2 linked regions of the Homo sapiens genome follow. The protein of the gene in region 1 purifies or fractionates together with the protein of each later gene. This does not show direct contact. Each region holds a gene or a part of one and is shown on either strand. Other genes may lie near its edges.

Region 1 (3,804 bases):
CTGTCCTTCTATCCCTCTGGGCTTTAGAATTCGAAGAGTCTGGCAGAAAAGGAAGTGTGGAGTCAAGTATGGCTGCCTGACCATCTCACACAGCACGGTGAGGCCTAGAGGTGGTGGGAGTCTCAGGGCACGATGGACCCTCTTCTTCTGGTGTTCTGAGCAAATAATGTCAAGCCCTCCCTCTAAGACTGGCCCCCAAACCTAGGTCCAGGGAGCTGGAGACCCGTTTGGGAGGACAGATGGGACCTGAAGGCCCCAATCTAGTCTTAGTCTACACTTCACATCCTTGAGGTGCTGCTGGGTGAGGAGAAACACAAATGGAACAGGATGATTATGCCCATTTAACAGAGTGGGAAATGGAGGCCTAAAGAATGTGGAGGGCCAGAGGTAATGCATACATCCTCCGCCCCTAAATTCCCACAGATAAACCGGCCCCCGGTGAAGCTGACCCTGCTGACGTGCCAAGTGAGGCCAAACCCTGAGGAGAAAAAGTGCTTCGACCTGGTGACCCGTGAGTGGTCCCTGTGCCTCTCCCCCACCCACAGCTGCTCAGGGCTTCTCTAAGACACCTGTCAGCTCCCGGGGGGCTTCAGTGAGGGGTCTGTGTCCAGTTCCACACATGGTGTCGAATTGCTGCTACTGCAGACATAAGAATCCTTAGGTCTAGGATACCCACATCACATTAAATGTCAAAATGCACCCACTTTACATAATAAATGTGGCTATTTATACAGAGCATATTTGAGTGGATTTGGGTCATCTGGGTTTTGAAATTATTTCTTTTTTTAAAATTTTACCTTTTTTTCCCAAATACCCAGACTTGAAGGAGATGAAATTATTGTTTCTTTACATTTTCTACTTTTCGTTCTTCAGAGCCTTTGGTGCAGGCTTTGTGTGAGAGCAGACACAGGCTGAGAAAGACCTAGATCTTGTCCTCAGGAAACTCTCTGGCAGGGGTGTGGGGTGGGTACCCAGGACTGTAAGATGAGGGGGCTGTCCAGAAGATGGGTGCAGATATAGCCCCATAGAAGATTAGGGAGCAGGAAGGCCTGCACTGCTGTGGGGAATCAGGAAAGGCTCCTGGAGGAGACAGTATTTGAGTTTAGCCTTGAAGGACATGTAGAATGAAGAGTTTGTGGGGTGGGGGCTTTTGAGGAGACAGGATTAGCATGATGAAAGGCATGGAAGCAGGAGAGTGGGTCTGGCCGGTTTGGCCAGAGTGGAGGGTTCATGTAGCAGAGTGAGAGATGAGGCCTGGAAATCCCTCTTAAAAGTTTGGACCTTATTTCCTGGCAATAGAGAGCCATGGGAGATCTTGGGGCAGGGCAGTGGTGTAATTAGAGCAGAGCCTTGGGCACAACAGTTGGGAGCTGGTACAGGCTAGGGGAAAGGGGAAATGGGAAGCAGGGAGACCAGACAGGAGGCCTGGTCGCCCAGGAGGAGACCAGGAAGGGCCCAGTGGGGTGGTGACAGTTGGTTCAGAGGATGCCCTGCCTCAGAGCTGGGTTCTCTGGGGTTCCAAGCCCTTTGAGACCTCGTCTGAGCCTGGAACCAGGGCTTCACGCAGAGGGAGCTTTGTTGGGATCCTACTTCGGAGGCCAGTTCTGAGAAACTGCCCCTGGTGCTGGCCACTGTCATTCCACTCCCTTCCCACTCCTAGCTTGAGAGTCCGACTTGTCAGGGACACATCTCCATGTGGCCCCAGCGGCTTTGGTGGGGGCTCCCTGGGCTCCGGGAAGGCCAGCAGCATTTCTGTGGGTCAGAAGCCCCCTTCTCTCCCGACAGACAACCGGACGTACCACTTTCAGGCAGAGGACGAGCACGAGTGTGAGGCGTGAGTGCCCCCTCGGCCAGCCCGGCCAGCCTTGTGGGTGGGGGCCGGCGGCCCTATCTCTTCCCACTTGACATCCCCATCCCACCCCGTTCAATCTCCGCAGGTGGGTGTCAGTGTTGCAGAACAGCAAGGACGAAGCCCTGAGCAGCGCCTTCCTCGGGGAGCCCAGCGCTGGCCCGGGGTCCTGGGGGTCCGCCGGCCATGATGGGGAGCCGCACGACCTCACAAAGCTGCTCATCGCGGAGGTGAAGAGCAGGCCTGGGAATAGCCAGTGCTGCGACTGCGGGGCTGCAGGTCGGTCCCCGGGGCCGGGGCAGGAGGGAGGCTTAAGTGGAGGGGAGGGGCTGCACCTCCAGGCTCCAGCTGCTTTCCTCTGCAGACCCCACGTGGCTCAGCACCAACCTGGGCGTGCTCACCTGCATCCAGTGCTCGGGCGTCCACCGCGAACTGGGCGTGCGCTTTTCGCGCATGCAGTCACTCACCTTGGACCTGCTGGGCCCCTCCGAGTTGTTGGTGAGGGCGGGGCGGGGCCTGGAAGGGGCCAGAAGCGGAGTTAGGGGTGTAGTTTCATCCGGGGGCGGGGCTTGCAGGTTGTGGGTGGGACCTGGCCGAGGTGGGCTGGGACAAGCCAGGTAGCGGGTGGTCAGGGGCGGGGCCTGAACCGGGAGGGCGGCCGAGGGGCGGGACTCTGGGGGCTTGGAGCTCCACCCTATGCAGGCTTAACCGCCCGGTCTTACTCCGCCCCACGTCTATTTTCCTACGACTCCAGCTGGCCTTGAACATGGGAAACACGAGCTTCAATGAGGTCATGGAGGCCCAGCTACCCTCACACGGCGGCCCTAAACCCTCAGCTGAGAGTGACATGTAAGGGGATTCTCAGAGAGAGGGGCACCCTGCCTAGGGGATTCTGCCTCCGCAGTGTCCAGGGTCGTAGAAAAGTCTTGGATCAGAAGTCTGGGGAGGCTGGGCGCAGTGGCTCACGCCTGTAATCCCAGCACTTTGGGAGGCCAAGGCGGGCGGATCACTTGAGGTCAGGAATTTGAGACCAGCCCGGCTAAGATGGCAAAACCCCGCCTGTACTCAAAATACAAGAATTAGCTGGGCGTGGTGGCACACGCCTGTAATTCCAGCTACTCAGGAGGTTGAGGCACTAGAATTGCTTGAACCCTGGAAGCAGAGGTTGTAGTGAAACGAGATTGCGCCACTGCACTCCCTCCTGGGCAATAGAGTGAGACTGTCTAAAAAAAAAGCCTGGGGAGAGGGGAGCCTCAGATCTAGACGTCTTCAGGACATGGTTCTGGAGAAAAAGAGAGCTGTATCTCCTGTGGGAGGGCCCCAGGGATCAGCTGGGCAGACACGGTCCATGCTCTGAGATCCTGTGGTTGTTTTTGGTAGGGGCACCCGCAGGGACTACATTATGGCCAAGTATGTGGAGCATAGGTTTGCACGCCGGTGCACACCTGAGCCTCAGCGACTCTGGACAGCCATTTGCAACAGGGACCTCCTGTCGGTACTGGAGGCCTTTGCCAATGGGCAGGACTTTGGACAGCCGCTGCCAGGGCCTGATGCACAGGTGAGAACCCCTCCAAGGGCCACTTATAACCCACCTGTCTAACATATTCCCCAGTTCTTCTCCAGGACCAGCTGTTACTCCCCTCCACCCCACCTCTGACATCTGCTCAGATCTCACCCATCAGAGTGGTAAGTGGGAAAGAGCACAGCTTCAGTCAGGCAGACCTGGGTGGGAATCCTGGCTCTGTTTTTTCCTAGCTGTGTGATCTAGGGCAGGTTACTTCTCTGAGTCTCATTTCCTCATCTATAAAAGGGGTTAATAATAGCACCCACGGTGATGAAGTGAGAAGTCATGTATATAAAGGGCTTAGTGTACAATGGGCATGCAATAAACGTTAATATCTTTTTCTTTCACCTAAATAGCCCTGAAATATAAGGGCATGTCAGTTTAGAGCCAG
Region 2 (4,167 bases), on another chromosome or scaffold:
GGGCGCCACCGCGTTGCTGTTGGGAGACTCAGAGATTGGAGGGACAGACGGCCGGGGCAAGCTGCATGCACAGGTAGGTGCGTGACCCGCATCCAGGGCAGGTGTCCACCCCTGCAGGAGAAGCAGAAGCTGTTGGATGAGATAGAGTCGCTGACGCTGCGGCTCAGTGAAGAGCAGGAGAACAAGAGGAGAATGGGGGACAGGCTGAGTCACGAGAGGCACCAGTTCCAGAGGGACAAGGAGGCCACCCAGGAGGTGAGCACCCACCCTGCCCCACGCCCAGTCCTGCGCCCAGCCTGCCCCACGGGGAGCCTTTGTTTCCTGAGACGCTAGCTCTTGGCTGTGCTGCTTTGGGCATAGCCGCTGGTGTGTGTCGTCCTCCCGAGAGACGGCCAGATCAACCCTGAGGTTCTACAGCCAAGTGATGGCTGACGGTGGCCCCTGGGAGCCCAGGCCCCCCGGCTCACTGCACGGTTGCCCTGCAGCTGATCGAGGACCTCCGAAAGCAGCTGGAGCACCTGCAGCTCCTCAAGCTGGAGGCCGAGCAGCGGCGGGGCCGCAGCAGCAGCATGGGCCTGCAGGAGTACCACAGCCGCGCCCGGGAGAGCGAGCTGGAGCAGGAGGTCCGCAGGCTGAAGCAGGTGGGCAGGCCTGGGCCTCCCTCCCTCACACTCCTGCAGAAGCTTCCACAAGACTGGTTGGGAAGGGGGGGCCGTGGAGGGTCAGCATCTGAGCTGGAGGCCTTTTTCCCCGGGCAGTCCTTGTCCCTGCTCAGCCACCAGCAGGGGCCACAGCCCAGTAGTGATGTTGCTGTGCCTTCAGGACAACCGCAACCTGAAGGAGCAGAACGAGGAGCTGAACGGGCAGATCATTACCCTCAGCATCCAGGGCGCCAAGAGCCTCTTCTCCACAGCCTTCTCTGAGTCCCTGGCTGCAGAGATCAGCTCCGTCTCCCGAGATGAGGTAACACATCCCGTGTCTGCACGGTGTGGCCTGGGGTCCACAGTCTGCACTGTCTGTGCGCTGTGGTTTATGCGCTGTGGCCTGTGGCCCATGCGCCTCAGCTCTGACCACCTGCTTGCCCTACAGCTCATGGAGGCGATTCAGAAGCAGGAGGAGATCAACTTCCGCCTGCAGGACTACATCGACAGGATCATCGTGGCCATCATGGAGACCAACCCGTCCATCCTGGAGGTCAAGTAGAGGCAGGAAGGTCCAGCCTGAGCTGGATTCGGGACTCCAACACCCTGGAGTGGTTCCGTCAGACCATGAGGAGCCAAGACCAGCAGGTCCCACAGCCGACAGTGCCCAGAGCATGCAGGGAACCCTCGTGCAGCTGAGCTGGGGCCGCCAAAGACCGGGGCTGCCAAAGGGGCAGAGGGTGGTGGAGAGGAGAGGGAGAAAGGGAAGTCCCAGGGCCCGGGGTCCACAGAGGATGAGGGTTGTGGCAGGGCCGTCCATCAGCGCTGACCTTCCGGGGGCCCAGAGCTTCCCAGCCCTGAGTCAAGCTGGCCATGAACGCGTACACTTCAGTTCAGCAGGATGGGCTGGAGAGCCTCTCTGTGCAGCGGTGTGGGGTGAGCCCTGCTGTGGCCTCCTTGTGGTGGTCCCTCTTCCCACGTGCAGCCCTGTTGGGAAGAAAGGAAGAAAACAGGTCCCTCCAGGGGTGCTGCTGCCTAAGCCACCCACATAAGTACGCTGGTGCCGTGTCACCCATGTTGAGCCGCTCCTGATGGCTGACGGGCTCCCAGACCCTCACCTCGGACATGGTGGTGGGGGAAGGACGGGTGGGCAAGGCTGGTGCGTTCCCCAGCTCTCCCTACGCTGCTCGGGCCATTGCCCAGCCAGATGTGGTCACCTCAGTCCAGCTCTGGGGCCTCCAGGCCATGTGGCTGTTCCCACGGCCCAGTCCTCGCTGCAGTAACCCCTGGGGGCTCTGACCACCTATGGGGGCCGGGCAGGAGCCTCTGGGGCCTCCACTCCGACATCAGGACCTGAGATGACCGCTGTGTGGCGCTCTCTCCCTGGGCAGGGTGGATGCCACAGGCCCCTCTGGCTCCCAGGTGCTGCTTCTCCACAGGTGCGGCCTGGCCCGGCCTCCTAAAGGCCACACCCTCCCCACGCACTTCCCAGGCCAGAATCCAAACATCGGGAACCCTGTTTTCTTCTGGGTGTGTCTCACTTAGAAATCGTGGTTCTTCCCCGAGGGTGCATGTTGCAGGAGGGAGAGGGCAGGGAAGACTCACAGCAGAGCAGGAGGGGGCCTGTGCTTCTCGGGGTCTGCACCCCAGGCACAGCGGTGTCACCCCGCAGGACCGCGGGCCTGCCCCAACCCCCAGCATTCCCGGGTGGGCCCAGACCCCATCACCAAGACTGGCCACCCGCTGCGTGTGTGTGCGCGCGCGTGTACGTGTGGCCCCACATCCGCCGCCTTCCACGCTAGGATGTAAGAGGTCGCCTCCTATTGTACATTTGGGGAAAGCCTTGGGTGTAAATCAGTGTAAACTTGGAGGAGAGATTTTTCTATCATGTAGAGTAGGTATTTTTTATAGATTGAAGGTTGATCAATTTTTTAATACTTTCAAGAGAAAACTGTGTATACACATGAAATATATATATATATATATATATATATATGTATAATATATAAAGACTGGCACCCTGCCTCTCTGTGCCCAGGCCCAGCCCTGGTGACATGGCACCACTCAGCAGTGCTGTCACTGTAAGCATGGACTCCCAGGAGACAGTGTGGGAAACGCTCCTGCTTTAATTCCCCGAGAAACGGCTCTTCCTGCCTGGATGCAGGAGGGCAGGGGCCACCACAGATTAAAGCTGTTACTGCACACGCAGAGGCCGGCTTCTTCCTCCAGGGGGGCCACAGGGTGGGGTGGGAGTCTTCTGGGCCTGGCCCAGCTTCCCTCAAGGCGTCCGAGGCCATCAGTTGTCTGAGCTCAGAACCCAGCAGACCTGCCTGGCTCTGCAGCTTGGTCAGACTAAGACCCTTCCAAGGCCGTAGGATTGCACCTCCAGGCCCAGTGGAGCCTGGCAGCTTTCCAGCCAGGTTCTGGATCCTGACGAGCTGCTGAGACAGCATCAAGGTGGGGCAGGTGGGGCGGGGCAAATTGGGCAGCACAGGGCTGTGTGGGCATCAGGGCTCTGGGTCACACGCCTCTGGGGACGTACGTCCCATGTCGGGAGAGCCGTCAAAACGTCCCCGGGATTAAGAGAAGAGTGGGGGGCAGGGCGCAGAGGCTCACGCCATAATCTCAGCACTTTGGGAGGCCAAGGCAGGAGGATCGCTTGAACCCGGGAGTTCAAGACCAGCCTGGGCAACATAGCAAGGCCCCATCTCTAAAAAATAAAAAATTAACCAGGCATTGTGGTGCGCACCTATAGTCCCAGTTCCTTGGGAGGCTGAGGTGGGAGAATTGCTTGAGTCCAGGAGACGGAGGTTACAGTGAGCTGTGATCACACCGCTGCACTCCAGCCTGGGCGACAGCGAGACCCCATTTCAGAAAGAATTTAAAAGGGCAGTGATGTGCAGGGTGGTGGGAGGACATCCCCCAGAAGAGGGGGCAGACACAGTACCAGCACCACAGGCACGGGAAGGTGAGGAGGCAGGTCCCGACGGAAGTGGGCTCCCGAGGTCATGGGCAGCCAGGGAGTCTGAGAGAGCTCAGTGCCACTGCAGCCACAAAGAATGGCCTGCGGGGAGTGGTCCCATCTGATCAAGAGTCCCCCAAAAACACAAGCCTTGAAAACTGGACCACCTGGTCCAGCATCCAGGAAGCGGACTGTGCATCTGCGGCTCTCGCTCTCCCGCCCCCCGCGCGAGATGCCCGCCTGCCTGTCACTCTCAGATGCAGATGGAGATGGAGAAACCAAGGCCCAGGGAAGCTGAGGACCCAGGTCTGCCAGTCCCCTCAGCCCAGCTGCTGCTTGCGGGCTGGTGACCAGAAGAGGACCAGGCGTGGCCTACAGTGAGGAGTCCTTGAACCCTCAGTGCAGGTGCAGCAGAATGGTTCCAGGTCACAGGGCCCAAGAACCCTGATTGCTTCATGAGTTAGAACTGAGGAGTGACAGGCCGGGCGCGGTGGCTCACGCCTGTAATCCCAGCACTTTGGGAGGCCCAGGCAGGCGGATCACAAGGTCAGGAAATCGAGACCA

Evidence for each region.
Region 2: the proteins of ASAP3 (region 1) and RAB11FIP3 purify together in Homo sapiens (affinity purification with western blotting, with the first as the bait; one study listed by BioGRID). This does not show direct contact.

What each region holds. Positions count from the first base shown.
Region 1 is NC_000001.11:23,435,454-23,439,257, reverse strand, and holds part of ASAP3 (arf-GAP with SH3 domain, ANK repeat and PH domain-containing protein 3), read left to right. Parts: intron 1-27; coding exon 28-97; intron 98-423; coding exon 424-511; intron 512-1,785; coding exon 1,786-1,834; intron 1,835-1,937; coding exon 1,938-2,128; intron 2,129-2,213; coding exon 2,214-2,347; intron 2,348-2,603; coding exon 2,604-2,698; intron 2,699-3,229; coding exon 3,230-3,407; intron 3,408-3,804. UniProt on the Homo sapiens protein: Promotes cell proliferation.
Region 2 is NC_000016.10:519,637-523,803, forward strand, and holds the end of RAB11FIP3 (rab11 family-interacting protein 3), read left to right. Parts: intron 1-117; coding exon 118-255; intron 256-485; coding exon 486-641; intron 642-822; coding exon 823-963; intron 964-1,089; coding exon 1,090-1,203; 3' UTR 1,204-3,375; downstream 3,376-4,167. UniProt on the Homo sapiens protein: Downstream effector molecule for Rab11 GTPase which is involved in endocytic trafficking, cytokinesis and intracellular ciliogenesis by participating in membrane delivery. Recruited by Rab11 to endosomes where it links Rab11 to dynein motor complex.